Regions from separate parts of the Homo sapiens genome. Here region 1 is linked to region 2. The links come from fine-mapping of genetic effects on gene expression. A gene starts in region 2. The other region holds a variant in brackets. All regions are shown on one strand. Distances are from middle to middle. Region 1 has its middle 23 kb from the start of OR5B3. Region 2 holds the start of ZFP91 (ZFP91 zinc finger protein, atypical E3 ubiquitin ligase).

Region 1 (10,731 bases), 200 kb after region 2:
CTTAACTCTTCTGTAACTCACTTTTAAGAAGTTGGGAAGATGATTCATGAAGACCATTTCCTCTTCCAAAGTCTATTGCTGTTTAGATAAGTTAGCCACTAATTGCACTGCCATTTCTAAGTCTCAGATATGAGGAATATTGGAGAACAAATAATTGCTATCATAACATAGGCTACATGTTTCCATTTATGTGCAAGTCTTTGTTGCTCATCACTCTATTCCATCATCTCTCTTTCCTACAGAGCATCCCATGAGTCTCAAACCACATCTATAGATGATAATACAGAGGTAAATGAATTCATATGACTAGGACTAACCAAAGCCCCAGAACTACAGGTCCACCTCTTTGTCTTATTTAACTTCATCTACCTCTTCACTCTGAGTGGGAACCTGGGGATGATGCTGCTGATCCTGCTGGACTCTCGTCTCCACACTTCCATGTACTTTTTCCTCAGTAACCTGTCTCTGGTGGACTTTTGCTACTCAGAAACTGTCACTCCAAAGATGATGGCTGGGTTGCTGATAGCTCACAAGGTCATCTCCTACAATGTATGTGCTGCTCAGATGTTCTTTTTTGCAGTCTTTGCTACTGTGGAAAGTTACTTCTTGACTTCAGTGGCCTATGATTGCTACAGAGTAATGTGTAAACCCCTACATTACACCACCACCATGACAACAAATGTGTGTGCTTCTCTGGCCATACATGCATGTCTTAGGTTTACTGACTGCTGCTGTTGACATTGGAGACATTTTATGTCCAATGAGATCCATCACTTTTTCTGTGATATTCTGGCAGTCATGACTCTGACTTGCTCTAATAAACATATTAATGAGTTGATCCTTGTTCCTACTTCAAGCTATATTTTTTACCCTCCTAGTTATCTTGATTTCCTGCTTGTTTGTATTTGTATTTGTCACCATTTTAAAGATGCTCTCTTTAAGTATACAAGAAGGTTTTATCTACCTATGGTTCTCACCTCACTGCAGTTCCTTTATTTTATGAGACTGTCCTCATCACATATGTGCAGCCAAGTTCTATCATTTCATGAACACAGAAAAAATTGTATCTGTGTTTCATATTATGGTTATCCCCATGCTAATCCCTGTGGTTTATAGCCTGAGAAACAACGAGGTCAAGAGTGCATTCAAGACTGTTTGTTGAGGAAACAAAATATTTTCTGGGTTTAGTCTTTTAATAATGTAAAATCCATAAAAAGTCATTCTATCCCTCTTAGATCCACCTTATGCAATAGCTTTCTGTATTATATTATATTATTATATTATTAATTTCTTTAGTTGAGAAATAGCTCTAAGCATGCGAAATAGAGAGAAATATGATACTGGTTTTAATAGAGTATAGTTTTTTATTGGCACATTTTATCTAAATATAAATAATTACAGTATCTTAATATTAATGTTTCAGTCATTATGTAGTGATTTGGTGAGAGAAAGCATATTCACATGACAACCTTGAAAAGATAGTCAAATTAGAATAAAAGCAGAGAAAATATTGTCATCTTTTACCTTACCCATATGACTACCAACTTCACATTTTGTTTTTTAAAAAAGCATTGATATTAATAATAATGCTATTCTCTTTTTTGGCAGTAAATGTTTTGAAATTGTTGTGCCACCATCGTTGCTTTGGTTGGGCCCACATCTCTAGGCATGCTCTTGTCTTAGGAGCTCTTTATTTGCTGTTTCCTCTGCTCAGAAAATTTCCATACTCATTTAATATTGTTGCTTAAATGTTAACCCACCCAGGCAGATCATGCCTTTCCTGAACTACTTCATAATATAGCCTCTCCCCTCCCATGGACCTTCTTTCCTCAGCCTACTTCATTCTTCAAAATCATTATCAACATTAAACTCCGGTATTATTTGTTCACCTGTTTATCATATCTTCGACTTGAATGGAAATTCCCTATGAGTGGTCACCTAATCTAGTTATTTTACTGTAACAAAGCTATGAGGCTTGAATTTAAAATTCTTGTATGGCACACATATACCTCTGTAACAAACCTGTGTGTTCTGCACATGTATCCCAAAACTTAAAGTAAAATTTTAAAAAAAAAATTTTAAACAAATTTACAAGAAAAAAACAAACAACCCCATCAAAAAGTGGGTGAAGGATATGAACAGACACTTCTCAAAAGAAGACATTTATGCAGCCAAAAAACACATGAAAAAATGCTCACCATCACTGGCCATCAGAGAAATGCAAATCAAAACCACAATGAGATACCATCTCACACCAGTTAGAATGGCAATCATTAAAAAGTCAGGAAACAACAGGTGCTGGAGAGGATGTGGAGAAGTAGGAACACTTTTACACTGTTGGTGGGACTGTAAACTTGCTCAACCATTGTGGAAGTCAGTGTGGCGATTCCTCAGGGATCTAGAACTTGAAATACCATTTGACCCAGCCATCCCATTACTGGGTATATACCCAAAGGACTATAAATCATGCTGCTATAAAGACACATGTACACGTATGTTTATTGCGGCACTATTCACAATAGCAAAGACTTGGAACCAACCCACATGTCCAACAATGATAGACTGGATTAAGAAAATGTGGCACATATACACCATGGAATACTATGCAGCCATAAAAAATGATGAGATCATGTCCTTTGTAGGGACATGGATGAAATTGGAAATCATCATTCTCAGTAAACTATCGCAAGGACAAAAAACCAAACACTACATGCTCTCACTCATAGGTGGGAATTGAACAATGAGAACACATGGACACAGGAAGGGGAACATCACACTCTGGGGCCTGTTGTGGGGTTGGGGGAAGGGGGAGGGAGAGCATTAGGAGATATACGTAATGCTAAATGACGAGTTAATGGGTGCAGCACACCAACATGGCACATGTATACATATGTAACAAACCTGCACATTGTGCACACGTACCCTAAAACTTAAAGTATAATAATAATAAAATAAAATAAAAAATTAAAATTAATAAAAAATTAAAAAAAAGAAATTCTCCAAACCATTTGCTTTTCACCTTGTAGCCAACTAAGGACTGACAAATGTACCTGAAGACCAATTATTGTTTCTACCCCTTCCAAAAGTCTTATCTTAATAAGATGGTTGCCAATGATTCACTGGTTCAGTATTTATTCCATTTTACTCAATGAGCTTACTGTCCCTTCTAACACACTTGCAATCCTGCTGAAGTAAAAATAATAGAAGATGGTTTCCTTGCTGCAAGTTTATTAATAAATTGCCTTTATTTTGTGCTAGACAGGATTTTGTGTTCAACACACTTCAGAAATGGTAATGAAGAATAATGGATAAGAAGAGAAATGCTGAAGAGATTACACCAGCAGCCAAGGAAAACAATGGAAAATGGAGTTTTCCCCAGAGAAAAAAATCAGGGTCTCATAAAAAAATATATATCATTACTTGGGTGAGGGACTTTCATAATGCCAATTCTGTAAGATTTTAAAACCAACCAGTGTGCCTCCCATTACTGTCTTGTATACATGGGGATGACTTTTTTCTGTGTGTGTGTGTGTGTGTGTGTGTGTGTGTGTGTCTGTGTATGTGTTTGCTAATTATCTTTACTCTGGTATGACTTTATGTATTGGATGTGAATGTAGAAGGAGCTAAATTTTCTTTTTGGTTCATAAATTGCTGAACCACAAGGAGCCACATCCTGATTATGTGGAGAAGACCATTTAACCTGAGGTTGAGCTTGTATGGTGACTAGTTGGGATTTAGGTGGTCTCTTTGGGGGAGGTAGATAATATGTTCTTTCTGTGGGAAGAAGTATAAAGTGGATATTGGATGATCATAAGTATTACAATGGAAAAGACTGGTAGTTGTTTTCCAAACTATTTTATTTTTACTGTACTCATACCTAGGCTGTTTCTCAGCCTTTATGCAGTACTTTGTGGCTATGTGATTGTATTTTTGACAATCCAATTTGTGAAGTCATATATGCCATTTCAACTCTGGCCCATGATACTCTTCATGTAGTCCTCTGTATGCTCTCTTTGTCACCATCTGGAGAGACAAAATTCAGACTACGGGGGATAATGGAATCACTTAGTGAAAAGACCTGGGTCATTGAATCTCTGTGTGAATTCCTATAGAACAATTAATTGAATAACCTGTGGGCAAGAAAATCTTCTATGATCATGCCACTGTAATTTCCGAGTTTACTTGTATGGCAGCTAGCGTTATTTATCCTAACTAATACAGACAGACTTTCATAATACAATCTGGATACTGTTTGTAGGTAATGGGGCTGGACAGCATATAACGGAAAAAGTGTCAAATTTCTCCATCACAATTTAATTCCACAATTGTTTATTTTTAAATCCTTATCCATTCTCCAAGTCATGACTAAAATGACAAGCACAAATAAAAGTACACAGATTTGAAACACAGAATAAAGCTGCATATGAATTCCATTTCAACAAAGCTTTGTGACAAGTGTCAAGTTAATTAAATGTTCTGAGATTCTACTTGTGAAAATACCACCTACTCATAGAATTATTTTGAATGGGTACTGAATGAGTGAGAACACAGCACAGTGCCTGAAACAGAATAGCTGTTCAAAATATGTTAGTAATTACTTCTCTCTATTCCTTTTCTTATTCTTATGTCATTTCATCACCTAATTTGTCACCCTTCTCCATAGAACTATTGAAACACTTATTAATTATATAGATTCATTTTTATAAATGTAGCTGCACTACTCAGTCATTATTCTCAGATATTAGTCTGATCTGATGTTGATTACATGGAAGGACTCAAGAGTGTCTAATAAAATGGCAACTCAGTGAAGGAACAAATTTACATATTAAATGTTAAAAAGGCCTATCCAATTTTATCTCTATTATCTGTTCCTTCATAATATTGATCACAATACAAAGTTATCTATTTGTGTGTGTTTACTTAAATTTGTTTTTCAACAAGAATAAAAGCTTGATGCATACAGGAACAATTTCTGACTTGGTCACTAACAAAGATTCATGCCTGGAACAGAGTTGGGGCTCAGTAAAAGATTTTAGTGAATGAGTAAATGAATAATAAGGAGAACTAATAGGAAAAACTCATCATCTGTTTGTAGAAAACAAGAAGATAGGTAATAAAAGATGCTAGATTTTACTGCAGTAACACATTAAGTGAAAACCCAATGGTTTAACACAACAAAGATTTTGTATTAGTTCCCTTTGGTTGTGACAAATTACCACATGCTTAGGGAAGTAAAACAACACATTTTATTTTCTTACAGTTTTGGAGGTCAGATGTCCAAAATCAGTTTCACTAGAATGAAACCAAGGTATCAGTCTCCAGAATCTCTAGGAAATAATCAGTTCCATGCATATTTCATCTTCAGGTGGCTGCCAGCATTCCTTGACTTTTGTCTGCATCAGTCTGATCTCTCCCTTCGCAGTCAGGTTCTTTTCTCCATTTTATGCCTATGCAATTTTTCCCTGACTCCACCTTTTTAATTTATATGAAATGTCCATAAAATAAAATTGATTATTTAAAAGTATATAATTCATTGATATTTAGTACATTCATAAAGTTGTGAAACCATCACATATATCTAATTTCAAAAGTTTTTTT[TA/A]CTCACAAAGAAGATTCCATACTCATTAAGCAGTAGTCCCTCATTCCCTCAGCCCCCTGACCCTGGGGACCAATAATCTTATTTCAATCTCTATGGATTTACCAATTCTGTATAGATCACATAAATGTAATCTCATAATATGTGACCTTTTATGTATGATTTATTTTACTTTACAGAATGTTTTCAAGGCTCATTCATATTGTAACATGTATTAATATTTTATTTTTACAGCTGAGTAATATTTAATCATACATATGTACTACATTTTGTTCTTCCATTCTCAGTTGATGAACATTGGGGTGTTTTCACCTTTGAGCAATTGTTAATATTTTACTAATGATGCTATGGATATTTGTGGGAAAGCATTATTTGAAGAACTGTTTTTGTTCTTTAAGTAGATAACAGGAAGTAGGATGGCTCATGCATATGGTAATTTGAGTTTAACTTTTGAAGACTAACAAATTGTTTTTCATATCAGCTCTACAATTTTACATTTCCACCAGCAATTTATAAGGGCTCCAATTTCTCTACATCCATGCCAATATTTGTTAGTTTCCATTTCTTTTTCAATAGCCATCCTAATGGATTATAAAATAGTATCTCCTGGTAGTTTTTATTTAAATTTCTCCTGATAAATAATGATATTGAGGATTTTTTATGTATTTATATAATTTGCAAATGTTTTTCTAATTCTGTAGATTTCCTTTTCACTTTTTGATAATGTACTTTGATGCCCAAAAGTTTGTAATTTTCAAATACAATTTATCTATTTTTGAAAACATAACAGCAATATCTCACCTTAATGAAGACCCTATTTAAAACACTTCACACACAGTGAATCATTTGATTCTCTTGACAATCATACAAGATACAGTTTTTAAATCTCCATTTTATGGATGAGGTATTTGAGACACAAAAAATCTAAGACACTTGCCTAAGGTTGCACAGCATATGTGACAGAGCCCCACTTGTAAATATTTACTCTATTGCCCCTGGAAAGAACATACTACTTTATTCCCTTGATATATTTTTAATAGTATGATTTTAATCTTTAATTTTTATTATTTTTGAGCCTTAATGTGTCCCTTTCTTTTTATTAGTATTTTAGTTGAAACATAACAATCGTACATTTTTATGGATACAGTGTATTCTGATGCATTTATGCAATGTGCAGTGATCATATCAAAGTAATTAGCAAATCCAACATCTGAAACATTTATCATTTCTTTGTGTTGGGAACATTCAAATATCATTTCTTCTAGCTCTTTGAATATGTACAATAAATCCTTATTAACTATAGCCACCCCACAGTGCTATAGAACACTAGAACTTTTTTCTCCTACCTAGCTGTAATTTTGTGTGTTAACCAACCTTTCCTTATCCTCCTTCCTCCCTAGCCTTCCCAGCCTCTAAGAGTCACTAATTAATTATCTAATTCTATGAGATAAACAATTTTAGATTCCACATATGAATGAGAACATGCAGTACTTACCTTTCTGTACCTGGCATATTTCACTTAACATCCTTCAGACTCCTCCATTTGTTGAGGCAAATGACAGAATTTTGTTCTTTTATGGCTGCATAGTATTCCATCGTGTATATGCATCACATTTTTAAATTCAGTCTTCTGTTGATAGACATTTGAGTTGATATTAAATCTTGACCATTAAGAATAACATTGTAATAAACATGGGGTTACAGATATTTTTAGACATACCAATCTCCTTTCCTTTGGGTATATACCCAATGGTGAAACTGCTGGATCATATGGCAGTGGTATTTTTAGTTTTTTTTTTTAAGAACCTCCATACTGTTTTCACAATGGCTATACTAATTTACATTCCCATCATCAGTGTGTAAGAGTTTCCCTTTCTTCATATCCTCATAATTTTTGTGTTTTATCTTTCTGATAATAGCTATTATAACTGGGGCAAGATGGTATCTCATTGTGGTTTTGATTTGCATTTTTCTGATGATTCATGATGCTGAACATTTTAAAATATATGTGTTGACCATTTGTATGTCTCTTTTTAATAAATATCTATTCAGATTTTTTGCCCATTTTTTATATTGGGTTATTTGTTTTTTGGCTCTTGAGTTTGTTGTATATTCTAGATATTACCCTCTCATTGAATGAATAGTTTGCAAATATTTTCACCCATTCTTCATGGTGTCTTTCTACTCTATTCATTGTTTCCTCTGCTGTATAGAAATATTTAGTTTGCTATAATCCCATTTGTCTATTTTTGCTTTTGTTGCCTGTGCTTTTGAGGTTTTCACTATACGATCTTTGCCAAGGTCAATATCCTGAGGCATTTCTTCCAAGTTTTCTCCTAGTAGTTTCAGAGTTTTGAGTCTCACATTTAAGTAATTAATCAATTTTGAGATGATTTTTATATGTGATGAAAGATAGATGTCCAATTTTTTTTACATATGGATATCTAATTTTCCCAGGACCATTTATTAAAGAGACTATCCTTTCCCCCAGTGAGTGTTCTTGGTGTCTTTATTGACCATTAGTTGGCTATAAAATCCTGAATGTATTTACATGTTGTTTATTCTGTTACATTAGTATATGTGTCTACTTTTATGCCAGTACCATGCCATTTTGGTTACTATAGCTTTGTAGTATATTTTGATGCCACATCCTGTGATGCCTCTAGCTTTGTGCTTTTTGTTTAGAACTTCTTTCACTATTTAGGGTCTTTTGTGGTTTCATATGGTTTTTTGGATTGTTTTTTTCTATTCTGTGAAAAAAACATTAAAATTTTAATAGGCATTTCATTAAATCTGTATAGTGCCTTGGACAGTATGGCCATTTTAACAAGACTAATTCTTACAATCACTGAACATGGGATATCTTTCCATTTATTTGTGTCCTTTTCAATTTTTTTCATCAATGTTTTATGGTTTTTCTTGTAGAAATTTTTCACCTCCATGGTTAAATTTATTTGTAGGTTTTTTGGTAGTTATTATAAATAAAATTACTTTGTTTACCTCTTTTTCAGCTAGTCTGTTGTGAATGTGTAGAAAACACTGATTGTTATATGTTGATTTTCTTATCTAGCAACTTCATCAAATTCATTTATCATTTCCAGGTTTTTTATGGTGGAGTCTTTAGGTATAGGATTATGTGGCTGCAAACAGGGACATCCTTCTTTCCAATTTAGATGCCCTTTATTTCTTTCTCTTGCCTAACAGCTCTGGCTAGAACTTCCAGTAATATGTTTAATAGGAGTGGTTAAATGGGTATCCTTCACTTCTTTCAGTTCTTAGAGGAAAAGCTTTTAGCCTTTCTCCATCCAGTATGATGTCAGCTGTGGGTTTGTTATATATGGCTTTTATTGTGTTGGGATACATTTCTTCATGCTTAATTTGAAGATAGTTTTATCATGAAGGGAAGTTAAATTTTATCAATGCTTTTTCTACATCTGTTCCAATTATCACATGGTTTTTGCTCTTTATTCTGTTGATGTGATATAGCATGTTTATTGATTTGCGTATATTGAACTATCCTTGCACCCCTGGAATAAATTCCACTTGATCATGGTGTATAATCTTTTTGATTTGCCGTTGGATTTTGTTTTCTAGCATTTTGTGGAGAATTTTTGCATCTGTGTTCATCAGGGATATTGGTCTGTAGTTTTCTTTTTTGTTGTGTCGTTGCCTGGTTTTGATAAGAGGGTAATACAGCCTCATTGAATGAGTTTGGAAGATTTTCCTCTACTTTAATTTTTTGAAATAGTTTGAGAAGAATTAGTATTAGTTCTTCTTCATTTTTTAATTTCAACTTTCATTTTAGATACAGGGGGTACACATGCAAATTTCTTACATGGGTATATTTCATGATGCTGAGGTCTGGAGTGTGGATCCCTGTCACCCAGGTAGTGAACATAGTACCCAATAAGTAGTTTTTTAACCTGTCCCCCATCCTCTAGTAGTCCACAATGTCTATTGTTTTTATATTTATGTCCATATGTTATCAATGCTTAGCTCCCCCTTATAAGTGAGAACATGTGGTATTTGGTTTTCTGTTCCTGCATTAATTTGTTTCAGATTATGTCCTCCAGCTCCATCCATGTCGTTGCAAAGGACATGATTTTATTCTTTTTGATGGCTGTGTAGCATTCCACAGTGTATATTTACCACATTTTCTTTATTCAGTCTACTATTGATTGTCATCTGGGTTGATTCCATGTCTTTGCTATTGTAAATAGCATAGCAATGAGCATATTTGCAGTGAAGACATCTAGTCCTGGGCTTTCCTTTGGAGACTTTCTTTTCTCTAGAAAACTTTAATTACAGATTTAATCTTTTTACTCACTATTGGTCCGTCCAGTTTTCCTATTTCTTGGTGGTTCAATCTTGGCAGATTGTGTGTGTCCAGGAATTGATCCACTTATTCTACATTTTCCAATTTCTTGGCCTATAGTTGTTCATAATACCTCTAGTAGTTCTCTGTATTTCTGGGGTATATGTTGTAATGTCTCCTTTTAGTTTCTAATTTTATTTACTTGGGTCTTCTCTCTCTTTTTTTTCTTGGTTAGTCTAGCTAAAGGTTTGTCAATTTTGCTCAAATTTTTAAAGCCAACATTTTGTTTTGTTGATCTTTTTAATTATTTTTTGGTCTCAATTGTATTTCTGCTCAGATATTTGTGATCTCTTTTCTTCTGCTAATCCGGCATTTAATTTGTTCTTACTCTTCTATTCCCTTAAGGTATATTGTTAGATTGTTTATATGAAAAAATTCTACTTTTTAAATGTAGGTGTTTATTGTTATTGTTATAAATTTTCCTGTTAATATTGATTCTTCTGTATCCCATAATTTTGCTATGTTTTTAAAGAAATATTAAATTTTTCTTCTTATTTATTGACCCATGGTCATTCAGGAGCACATTGTTTAATTTACATGCATTTGTACATTTTCTGAAAGTTCCTAGTATTATTGATTTCTAGTTTTATTCTATTGTGGAGAGAAAAGATATTTGCTATAATTTTAATTTTAAAATATTTGTTTAAGCTTGTTGTGTGGCCTAACATATGACCAATCCTGGAGAATGTTCCATGAGCTGATAAATGTTTATTCTTCAGCCACTGGATGAAGTGTTTGTCTGATAAGTCTACTTGGTCTA
Region 2 (10,731 bases):
AGCATTCTTCACCCTGTAATTTTAATCTGTATTTCTACTAGCATAAAAATTTTTGCCTTCACTTTACTCTGTATACTGTGTATCATTCCAGTCTGTTACCTCATTTAAAAATAAAAGGCTTAAAAAAGTTACTATAAATTACCATCAAACAATCTGATTTGCCTTTATTAGGTTTCTAAATAATGCCAATATACTCTATTATCCAAACGTGCTGTCGTCTAAATATTTTCTAACTCCAGTAATTTTTTACCAAATAAAAATTCCTTTTAAATGGGAACCAATTTGAATGATGAGGCTTTCTAACAGATTAAAAGATAATCAGTGTAATGTACGCTAGAGGTAAGGATGACCAAGTCTTACCTTTATCAGTTGTTACTTTTTCTATGCATCTGAAAGAAATAAGAATCAAACATTAATGAACAATCTAGCACATTTTCTGAAAATATAAATATCTCTTTCAGGTTCACCTCCAGAGTGATAAAGAAAGCATCTAGACTAGTGTTGTCCTACAGAATTTTCAGCAGTGATGGAAACATATCTGCACTGTCCAATATGGCAGTCACATGTGGCTACTGAGCACTTGAAACAGTTCATGTAATTGTGAAACTGAATTTTTAATTTTGATTAATGTAAATTTAAATAGCCACATGTGGCTACATAACTGACAGCACAGAGCTAGAATATCATTCAAAACACCTATTTTTAACTAAGATATTGATACAAAGAAAATATTACTAATTTTGTTACATTAAGTGATTATATAAGAAAATGTTCTTATTTTATATAAATGTACTAACTAGAGATGAAATGATGTTTGGGATGTGCTCCAAAATACTTCTGCCAAAACAGGGAGGATGGACATAGCAAGCATGGCAAAATCTCAGCTAGGTGATCAATACTGGGGTTTCATTATACTATTTTCCCTATTTTGTGTATATTTAACAATTTTCATAATAAAAACTCAATGAAGTGTTAAAAAGACCCTAAAATTGTTTGTTAAGACCAAATCAAAATCTACTTGTAAAAAGACAATAGGTGGACCTCACAAGTAAATGTAACTTGCCCTTTACAAATTAAAAAGCAACAGTAAAGAGCTTAAAAATTGTTATAGCCTGAAGATTTTTTTAAAAACCCCCAAAACAACAAAAATCAGACATATCCCCAGGTTTTTCATTCAGAAAAATTTCTCTCATACGTAACTGGTGAGGACAGTATAATGAACTTCCTATACTTACTACTAAAATTCAAAAGTCAACAGGCCCTGAACATTTATCATATAGATACCACAGAGTATCTCTGAACAGTACAAAGTTTTTTTGTTGTTGCTCCTCCCAAAAGTAAACCTAATATAGTAAAGACTCTATTATGTTACAATATGTTATAAATAAATACCCAGACAAATACAGAAGCCACAGTGTAATACAAAAATCTATTCTACTTAGAAACAATAGTTATCACTGTTTGTTCCATACTTTTTTAAAAAAGACTGGTATTATAATTTTATTTTAAATCACATTACCAATGTCCCAATTAACACACCATAACTGCTAATCATCCCATCTTTAAATAAAAACTGCAGAAATAATTGCTAAATTTTTGAAAAATTATATAACAAACTTTTCCAAAAACCTTGAAAGTTGGTTCAATGTTTCTATCATCATACTGATTAAGATCCTGATCACAGGATTTCAGTCTTGTACAACTGAAGGCTTCTCCAAAGAACTGTAAGTTTTTTCAATTCAGAATATTACCACCTCTTCATCCTCACTATCCATGACCTTCAAAAGGGAAACAGCAAGAAAGGTCACCTAAAGGTTTATTACTGTTTTAATTTTAGCAAGAAAATATACCAAAAATGGAATTTCACATACTAGAAAATAAAACTACTTTCCTTAATCTGAACCTGAAGGAAGACATCTAAAAATACTCAGTATTAGCTAATATGGTTACTCAACAGCGAAGTTAGAATTTTTAAAAAGTATTTGTCCCTAAAGTTTTAAGTTTTGAAATGCACAGGATAAATGAAGGGCTATTACATGTAAGAATGAAAAAAAGCCTTATACATTTTAACCTAGTCTTAATTTGACAATTTCATTCCCTACTAGCAGAACGCATGGATGAATCAGAAAAAAATCATAGGCAAAAACTAGTATACTAATGCTACTAGATTTTACTTCAAAAATTAAAGACAGTATATAAACGTGCACTTGAAATAACTGTAATTTACTGGCTAACATACAGCAAATGATCAGTCTTACTCTTAGTATGGATACATAAACTTTCTTCAAATTTGGTTTATTTTTCCTACTAGCTTTCTATGCTTCAATTTATCATGATTCTAGCATTTAACTCTGTGCTTCTCTTGAGCACAATGAAAAATTTTTATTTCCCCTTCATCCACAAATATTTCCTCTTCCCAATAACCCCTAAATAGTTCATTGTGAAAAGAAGTTGTTATAAACATCAGATTATAAAAACTGTAAGCTAAATATGTCATCTCGCAAATTCATAAAATATCAATTATAAATGAAGCAATTATAAATGAAGAGGTTAAGTGACTTGCTCAAGGCCACTTACTGCACAGTACAAAGCTGGAACATAAAACTTTCTGACTAAAGTCCAATGCTTTATCCACTCTATTATTTTGCCTTCCAATGGGAACAGAGGTTTCAACCAATCCAAATCTATCTATTTCTTGACCTTTTAAACTATGGTATACTTTACTATCACTTTAATTAAGAAAATCAAATGTAGGTTAAACAGCTGATTACTAAGATTGTATACAGGGAAATGCTGGGATATGGAAAAAGGACTAGCGCGAACAAGTAAGTAATACAGAATAAACCTTCCTTTTTAAAATTTTCAAAATGTCATTTGGAAAACAGAAATGACTCAAAGTCAAAGATACCAGACCAGGGTTTGGACTCAAAACCTCTTGAAATATCTTAAAGGATTAAATTATGTAGAAAAAATTAAGTCTTAAAATGTATTTTATGACTGAAAATCTGTATACCATACACACATTTGACATATCTCCACTAATTAATGCATCTTTGCCTTACACCCCAAGGTCCTTGAAGATGAGGGCCATGTCTCATTTTTCTTTCTACCACCTAGTTCAGCATAGTACCAGGCCCAGATACTGATGAAACAAGTTTGCCAAGCTAAAATGCTTTAGCATTCCTCTGATTTCCAGATTATGGAATAAGGTAAAAATGTGTAACAAAAACTCTATTATGACGAAAATTTGTTTAACAACCTGATCAAAAACACAGTCAAGAGATAATTTTGGGGCTGAAAGAAGAATGCCATTGTCACTACTGTTTTCTAATGATATTGGATGGGAGGCGGGTGGCGCTAAGAATTCAGCCTTATTTCTTCCTCCCCACAAGGAACATTGTGCAGAAAAAAGGAAGGAATTTAATTAAGTCATCTTCATCCATATACAACAGTAACAGTTATATGGAATTAAAGCGTCACTAGTACTTTGTTGCCAAGAGTTAGGGCAAAAATAAATCATGACAGCAGGTAAAATTACTGTTTTAGATAAAAATTATTTATTTTCCTTCAAAAATTAAACAGCAGGCTGGGCGCAGTGGCTCACGCCTGTAATCCCAGCACTTTGGGAGGCTGAGGCGGGTGGATCACCTGAGGTCAAGAGTTGGAGACCAACCCGGCCAATATGGTGAAACCTCACCTCTACTAAAATTACAAAAATTAGCTGGGATTGGTGGCGGGCGCCTGTAATGCCAGCTGCTTGGGATGACGAGGCAGGAGAATTGCTTGAAGCCAGGAGGCGGAGGTTGCAGTGTGCAGAGATCATCGTGGCACTGCTCCAGCCTGGGCAACAGAGCAAAAACTCCATCTCCAAAAAAAGAAATTAAACAGCAGGTACCATTTTAGACATAATTATCTTATCTTGAGATATAGGTATATTTAATTTTCAAGGGGTAGGTGAGAATAAAAGGAAATTTTAAAAATATTTTAAGTATTACCCTCTCTACGAATAGTAATATTAAAGAGTGAAAAAATCATATTTTGCATAATTTATATGAAAAACCTCACTACAAACCACTCAAGGATCTACCATCCCACCATTACTGAAAAACGCAACTTGTACTTAGTATTTACAACAGGCATTGTGTCTAGCACTTTACACACTGTATTTAATTCTCACAAACTCACGTTGCAGAGATTATCCTCTATAGGTAAGGAAACTAAGGCATGGGTAGGTTAAGGAATTTGCTCACGGAATTCATATCCAAATGAGGTCAATGATATACATGTATCTTTTCAAATTCATGAGATTAAACAATATAGAACTATAAAATTTTTGTAAGATGAAATGCATCTACAGCAATTAGAAGTCTAATTGCAGCTGAATCTGTAAGTACAGATTTTTGCTGTCGACAGAACTGCAGTTCTTACAACAAATTCTCTAAATTATGTTAACTTAGCTGACATTCAAAAATTTGAAAGCATATCTAATACCACAATATGATTACCTCTGAATTTTATTTCTCTTTCTGAGAGGCTTCTAAGGCAAGCATGCCAAGACACAGGCTTAACTCTTAATTTTGGACCAAGTCTGTTTCAAGTTTTAAATCTATTAGGTCTGGTGTAAGTCAAACCTTGCCACTATCTCTACTGGAAGAAAGGGAACACTTAAAACTGACTCCCCCTCACTTCAATTTTCTCTGTTTTTACTAATCTGTTTTCACTCAAAAATCAAAGGTCACTAATGATGTTTTCAGTCATGAATTGAATAGTCAATGTGATTAATTTCTAGAATTTACAAACTTGTGTGCTTCAGTATTCTTAACATGAGTATTATTTTAACGAACAATTTAAGACAATGCTCCTGGCCACCTGTTCATGTTTCCTCTATTACGTCTAGGTAATAAAGGAATTCCTCTCAGATGATTCTAATTTCAAGGATGAAGTTCCTACATTTAAAAACACGAAACACAAAGATAAAACATATGCTACTTAGTAAAAACAAACATTAAAGAATGCTCATATAATTTTATATGAAAGACTCCATACTTAAAATCGTAGCAGTGGGCTTTTAACCTGACCATAATAAGTGGCAAATTTCTCAAAAGAATGAGAAGGGTTGCGAAAAATTTAGAAAAGTGAAAAAAAAAAAAAGCTACATAAACACACTAGTACATCTGGCTCTTGAGCTAACGCGAAGGCGGGGGGGAATCATTTTTGAAGGCTATGATCGGGCTGTGTATTCCCTAAAGGGCATGTGATGTAATACTGGAGAGCCGCCTAAAGGAAAGGGATAGGGTGACAAAGGGGGTGCGGATGCCAGAAAGAGGGATGAGCCTGCGGGTGTCAGGGAGGAGGTGGATCACTAGCGAGTGCAGGGGTGTATCAAAAGATGATTTCGGGGAGTGGGGAAACGGCCCGACAAGCGAAGGTACAGGAGCGAGATGAGGGTGGCGCAGAGAGGAGGCACGAAGGCTCCCGGGGAAACGGTGTGACATCTGGCGTGCGGAGCCGGCAGGGGGCAGACCAGGCAGGATGTCACGTGGAGTAGGCGCTACGGGAGCCGAGAGGGTTGCGTACGGACAGAGGGGGGTCTTTCCCACCGCCTGAAAGACTGTTACTCACAGGAGTCGCGGACTCTTCTTGCCCTGAACTGGAGACGGGGACTTCGCGGCCTGGGGCTGCTGCCCGGGGACGTCGGGAGGCCTGGCGCTGGGGCTGCTCCTCCGCCGGCGGGGATACTCGGCCTTCCTCCGGCGGGACACAGCTGCGGCGGCGGCGGCCGCAGCGGCCCGGCCTCGGTCCCGACCTCCCCTCAGCACGCGGCTGCTAGTGGTCCCTGCAGGCGCCGCCGCGACCGCCTCAGGGGGCCGTTGTTGGGGCTCCTCCGGAGCCGCCTTGGCCGCCTCTCCCCCTTCCTGGTCCTGCTGCTCCGGGGGTCTCGGCTCTTCCGTCTCCCCCGGCATCGGGGCTTGTCCGTCCCCCACCCCCTAGTCCTAGGCGGCGGAGGCGGAGGCGGCGGCCTCGGCGCTGCTCCCCCCGCCCCCTCGCCTCCCGAAGCCTGCGGCTCACTCTCACCCTGCGCTCCTCTTTCCCCCCTCCCCTCCGCCCGGCTCCGAGGGCGCCCCCCCCACCCCCTGCCACTCAAGGTCCGCTACCGCTGGCGGCGCGCGCGCGCGCGCCACAGACGCTCAGCGGGCCAATCGGAAAAGAGGACAAGCCTCCTCACCCCGCCCCTCGCAGTCTTACACGCAGCGGCGCCCCAGGTTCCCTCCCCCACCCCTTCCTTCAGCCAATCAGGAAACGGCTAAAAGGGGAGCGCGCGAGGTTTCCTTCCCCGCGCACCCGTTCTCACCGTTAAACGGCTGTGTCTCGCGACAATCCCAAAGTGACCTTTTTCCCCCCTCCAGACTTCAACGCGCGCTAGGGGCAGTGCGAGGGGCAGGTCTCGCGAGGGAGGCGGGTGAGAAGAAATCGCACCTCTTTCCCCGCCTCACGCAAACCCTAGACTGGCTGCGCGCGCACCTGCCTCCCTGAGGAGCCACTGATACCACAAGGGCTCTTTCTATTCTTCTTTAGGCCGCAGAAGTAGCCTGGGCGTTCTTCCGCCTCCACCCTACCCCACTTTCCTGTCTTTGGCCTTTCTGTCCCCAGCGCCGCCAGATCTTGCGCGGAGAAGGGGGTAGTATTTTGAGCTGTCGCTTCTCCTTTAAGAAAAAAAGCCCCGTCGGTTGCCGGATGAAAGTCTCTGAAAAAATGGCGGCGGCAAAACGGAGGCGGGGTTGTGGGGGCAACGAGGGCCCGCCTCTTGGCGCATGCGCACCGTTAACTTAACCAAGGGCATTCTGGGAGATGAAGTCTTATTTCGCCTAGGCTTTAGGAAAAATAGATGGGAAACCAGAGGTGGAGAGGATGCCGGGAGGTTCTAACTGAGTCACGACGGGAAAGGTAGTTTACTTTCCGCAGTCTAGAGTTTACCTTTTTTTCGGGAGGCAGTGTTTCCGGGTTAGGTCGCGACGCGTGCCGTACATCCGGGCTCAAGCGTCGAGCCAATTGCTGGTCTGATGGGAGGGTTTTTCCTACTTTTTCTTACTTTTTATCTGGGCGTTGGCGTACCTTTCTCGGGGTGTCTGCGTAACTGCCCAGACTTGCCTTGGTTTGGTCAGATGACACCTCCTCTGGGACTGGCTAGCCAGCGTTCATGTCTACATTATTGATCTCGTCTTCCGGTGTGTGAGTCACTCACCTGTGAGCTCCTAGAGGTCAGCGACTAAATCTGGTTCCATGGGGTCCTTGGGCCCTCGGAGCCCTAGCACAAGGCCCACTACTCAGTTGGCTCTTAATCAAATCTGTGAAACGAATTATAAAGTTGCTTTTCTACTAGACCTTGTTGGGACACCAAGGAGCCGGCGTCGGTTGCTTAACTTGGATGCGGTGCCTGACCTAGAGGGAGGCGAAAGGGTTGTGAGCGTGACATGACTGGTGACCTACACCGAGAAGCTGAAGGGTCTCTTAAGCTCTGCGGCCGGAAGCCATCTGCTTCTGCGGTTTATACAATAGCAACTTTATCAGAGGTTACTTTTCTGCACGCTAGCGTATGACATTAATTTGTCTTCCTGATTCATCAAAGGGAATTTCCGTTGCAGTTGGTGATGCAGTGGGCCTCTCCCATTTCTTTTTTCTTTTCATCCATTACAATCAAGGAACGATTTGCAAGAACATCCTTTACCCCTGGAAAATAAGGCATCCAGGGCTAAAAGTCCCAAAAGAAAGAAGCTGGAAACAAGATCTGGGGATCCAATTTTAAATTTCACATTAATCATTCAGTTAAACTGTAGACAAGTGCTGAAGTACATTTTTCCTTCCAGTACTTTGACTCAGATACCACTTCATATTAGACAAATGTTTTATATTCTCTACTGAGTATTTTCCATTTTCATAGGGCTAATGTCATTTTCAGTTGTAATAATCGATTGGCATAGTGTCAATGGAAATTTTTTAAGATTGAGTTTGTAGTGAGCAGACTTTTGGAAGGAACAGTGCTGACATCCAATGGATGCTCAAAGTAATACAGAGGAGGAATCTCCTTTCAAAAAAAAATGTACAGACAGTGGAATGGAGAATGAATTATTCCCTAAAAAAAAAAAGCCACTGTGGGCTGGATGTGGTAGCTCACCCCCGGAATCCCAGCGCTTTTGGATGCCAAAGTGGGAGGATCCCTTGAGCCCAGAACTTCCAGACCAGCCTGGGCAACATAGGGAGACCACCCTCTACATAAAAAATAAAAATAAAGCTTTTAAGCTAACCTGGTGGCGTGATGGGATGCACCTCTGGTCCCAGCTACTCCAGAAGCTGAGAAGGGCAAATCGCTTGAGTTCAGGAGTTCGAGTTGGAGGTTACACTGAACTATGATAGTACCTTTGCACGCCAGCCTGGGTGACAGAGAGCTTGTCTTAAAAAAAGTAAAGAAGGCTACGGTGTTGTAGAGGAAAGATCCCAGACTTTGCAATTATAGTAAGTAGCAAAGCTACCAATTAATTATCTTAGCAAGTTGCTATTACATGAACCTATTTCACCATTGGTAAAAAGGGGGAAAAAATCTATTTCACAGGGCCATAATTATAGTTCCTTACGTATTGCTTTTTTATAGTAGGCCTTTTGTAAATGTTTAATTCAAGGTGAATAAATCACAGTGGTAAAAAAGGTGAAGAGTTAACCTCAGTGTTACTTTCCAAAGAAATTGCTATAAGGCAGTGTATCTAGGCAGGGATTATGCTTAATTGAGATGCACACAGTTTAACATCTGGTGTCAAACCTGGCTTCCTTCTTTGTGACCACCCTATAGATGTTTGCTTTTGGGACCACTGAGTAAACCAGGCCCTGAGAATCCAAGCATGAATCCACTTCTGCCCTACTTTTAAGGATTTACGTTCCATGCAGGAAAGCAGATAACCATAATTTCTGAATAAATAAGACAACAAAATGAAATGGATGCTGGTCAACTCTGATGCAAATTTTAAGAAGGAGACTATGCCTCTGTGTCTCCCAGCTTCACAGAAAAAAAAAAAAGAAAAAAGAAAGATGCTCAGAGTGGGGTACCTACACTTGGAAAAAACGCAAGTATAAGTCTGCCATTCCCATGAATCCAAGATGAATCCTGGCACAGAGTAGGTCCTCAAATTTTGCAAAATTAATTTTGAATCTTTATCACCCTGGCCAATGCACTGCCATAATGCAAATCTTACTATCTACCTTTCTATGTCAGTCACATTTTTAAAACTGTGTAACCTATGAAAAAAAAAAAAAAGCTCACCAAATCAAAAGAGAGGAAGTGCTAAGCAAATACAGGAACCAAAAAGGTTTATAGAGGCTGCCTTATGCTGTCTCATCCAGTTCCTTTGCGGTCCTCTTCTTCAGCACATGCCAAAGCTGTTCCTCACGGCCTGTGAGACAAGAGCATCTTGGATGTAGGACAATGGAAGAGTTAGGTGAGTGAGGAGCCTGAGGAGAAACTCTGAGGGAGTGAAGACTTGGCTGCCATCTCCTTGTGTGGTGGGGTATACTTCTGGCTAGACTGAGGGTAGTAATGGAAGATTTTATTTTCACTTCTTTCCTGTCCTCAGCCCTGCCAAGAGTGAAGCATGAGGAACTATGATTGTTTTGGGGAACTATGGGTTCACTGTTTGCAGTGGCAAAATAGATGGAGAGTTTGGTGCTAACCGCGGAATAAACTCTTGGCAAATACTTTTGGACTGGATTGTTACTGCAGTTGTTGTCTTGTTATGGGCGTTTTGCCCTTTGGAGGTCACTGGAGATCAAGGGTGGCCACATAGCGAGACAATGCAGAGATATGATTTGAGGAGGAAAAGAAAGAGCAAAAAGGGAATTGGGGTGTTATGAGGAAGAAAAGACGGACTAGAAGTATAAGAATGAGGGATCTGTAGAGGTTGGAAAAAGGCCAGAGTGGTTTCATTTGTTCCATGTTTTAGTATTAAATCAAGAAGGCATAGCACTCTAACTCTAGTGATTTTGTTGCTAAGCTTTTTATTCAGAAGAATTCTGAAGGAAGAGATTACTAGGGCCTGAAAATATGACACCTCCTTCCACTCTAAGACAATTAAAACCAGCAGTGGAACTATTAACCATATTAACCAGAGAAATCCTGGATTTCAAACCTTTGGAGTAATGTAAGGTTTGTCATTCTTGGGACTCATTCCATAGCCTTTGCCAACATCTGTTGCCAGCATCTTAACTAACACTGAGTCACTAAACTATACCCAATTTCCAAACTGTATTAATTCCACAGTGTCCTGGTTTGGGGTGTGTTTGGGGATAGGGTATGTCAAAAGTGCAAAAAACAACAACAAAAAATATCTTGCACATTGTTACATTGTCTTAAAAAAAATGGCGTGTGATTTCAAAGCTGGAGAAACAGAGGAAAAGTAAAGGGCAAATTACCAGGAGGCAAGAGATGTTAATGAAGAGAAAAAGGTAGTGTTTAATAAATATCAAACTGCTTTGGAGGTAAAGTCTATTTTGATATTGGGCCAGACTCTTTTTTGGACTTGGGGTAGAATTCTATTTCTTATCCTACGTGAGTGCTGGGAGAATGTGAATTTCTGCTTGAGTTCTAGTAGTGCTAGGGCCTTTTTTCTTTTTCTCTTTCTTTTTTTTGGGGGGGATGGAGGGGACACCGAAAGGCTTTCATGGCAAATAATTCAAAAGGAAACTAAT

The links.
Region 1: its variant is fine-mapped to the expression of ZFP91 in aorta (GTEx, PIP 0.96).

What each region holds. Positions count from the first base shown.
Region 1 is chr11:58,378,011-58,388,741 of GRCh38, reverse strand. It overlaps the pseudogene OR5B15P. Among named protein-coding and RNA genes, the nearest start is that of OR5B3, 23 kb to the left of the region's middle. The variant TA/A (reference allele first, on the strand shown) is at 5,599.
Region 2 is chr11:58,574,514-58,585,244 of GRCh38, reverse strand. ZFP91 (ZFP91 zinc finger protein, atypical E3 ubiquitin ligase) reads right to left here and starts at 6,182. Exons shown (of 11, transcript NM_053023.5): 1 at 5,623-6,182; 2 at 361-389. The coding sequence starts at 5,963. It overlaps LPXN (leupaxin), which reads left to right and starts at 9,389. Exons shown (of 9, transcript NM_004811.3): 1 at 9,389-9,485. The coding sequence starts at 9,473. ZFP91-CNTF (ZFP91-CNTF readthrough (NMD candidate)) reads right to left here and starts at 6,131. Exons shown (of 13, transcript NR_024091.1): 1 at 5,623-6,131; 2 at 361-389. RefSeq lists enhancers at 5,113-5,804, 6,549-6,778, 6,498-7,190, 6,809-7,328, 7,349-7,428 and 3 more and a silencer at 5,709-6,128.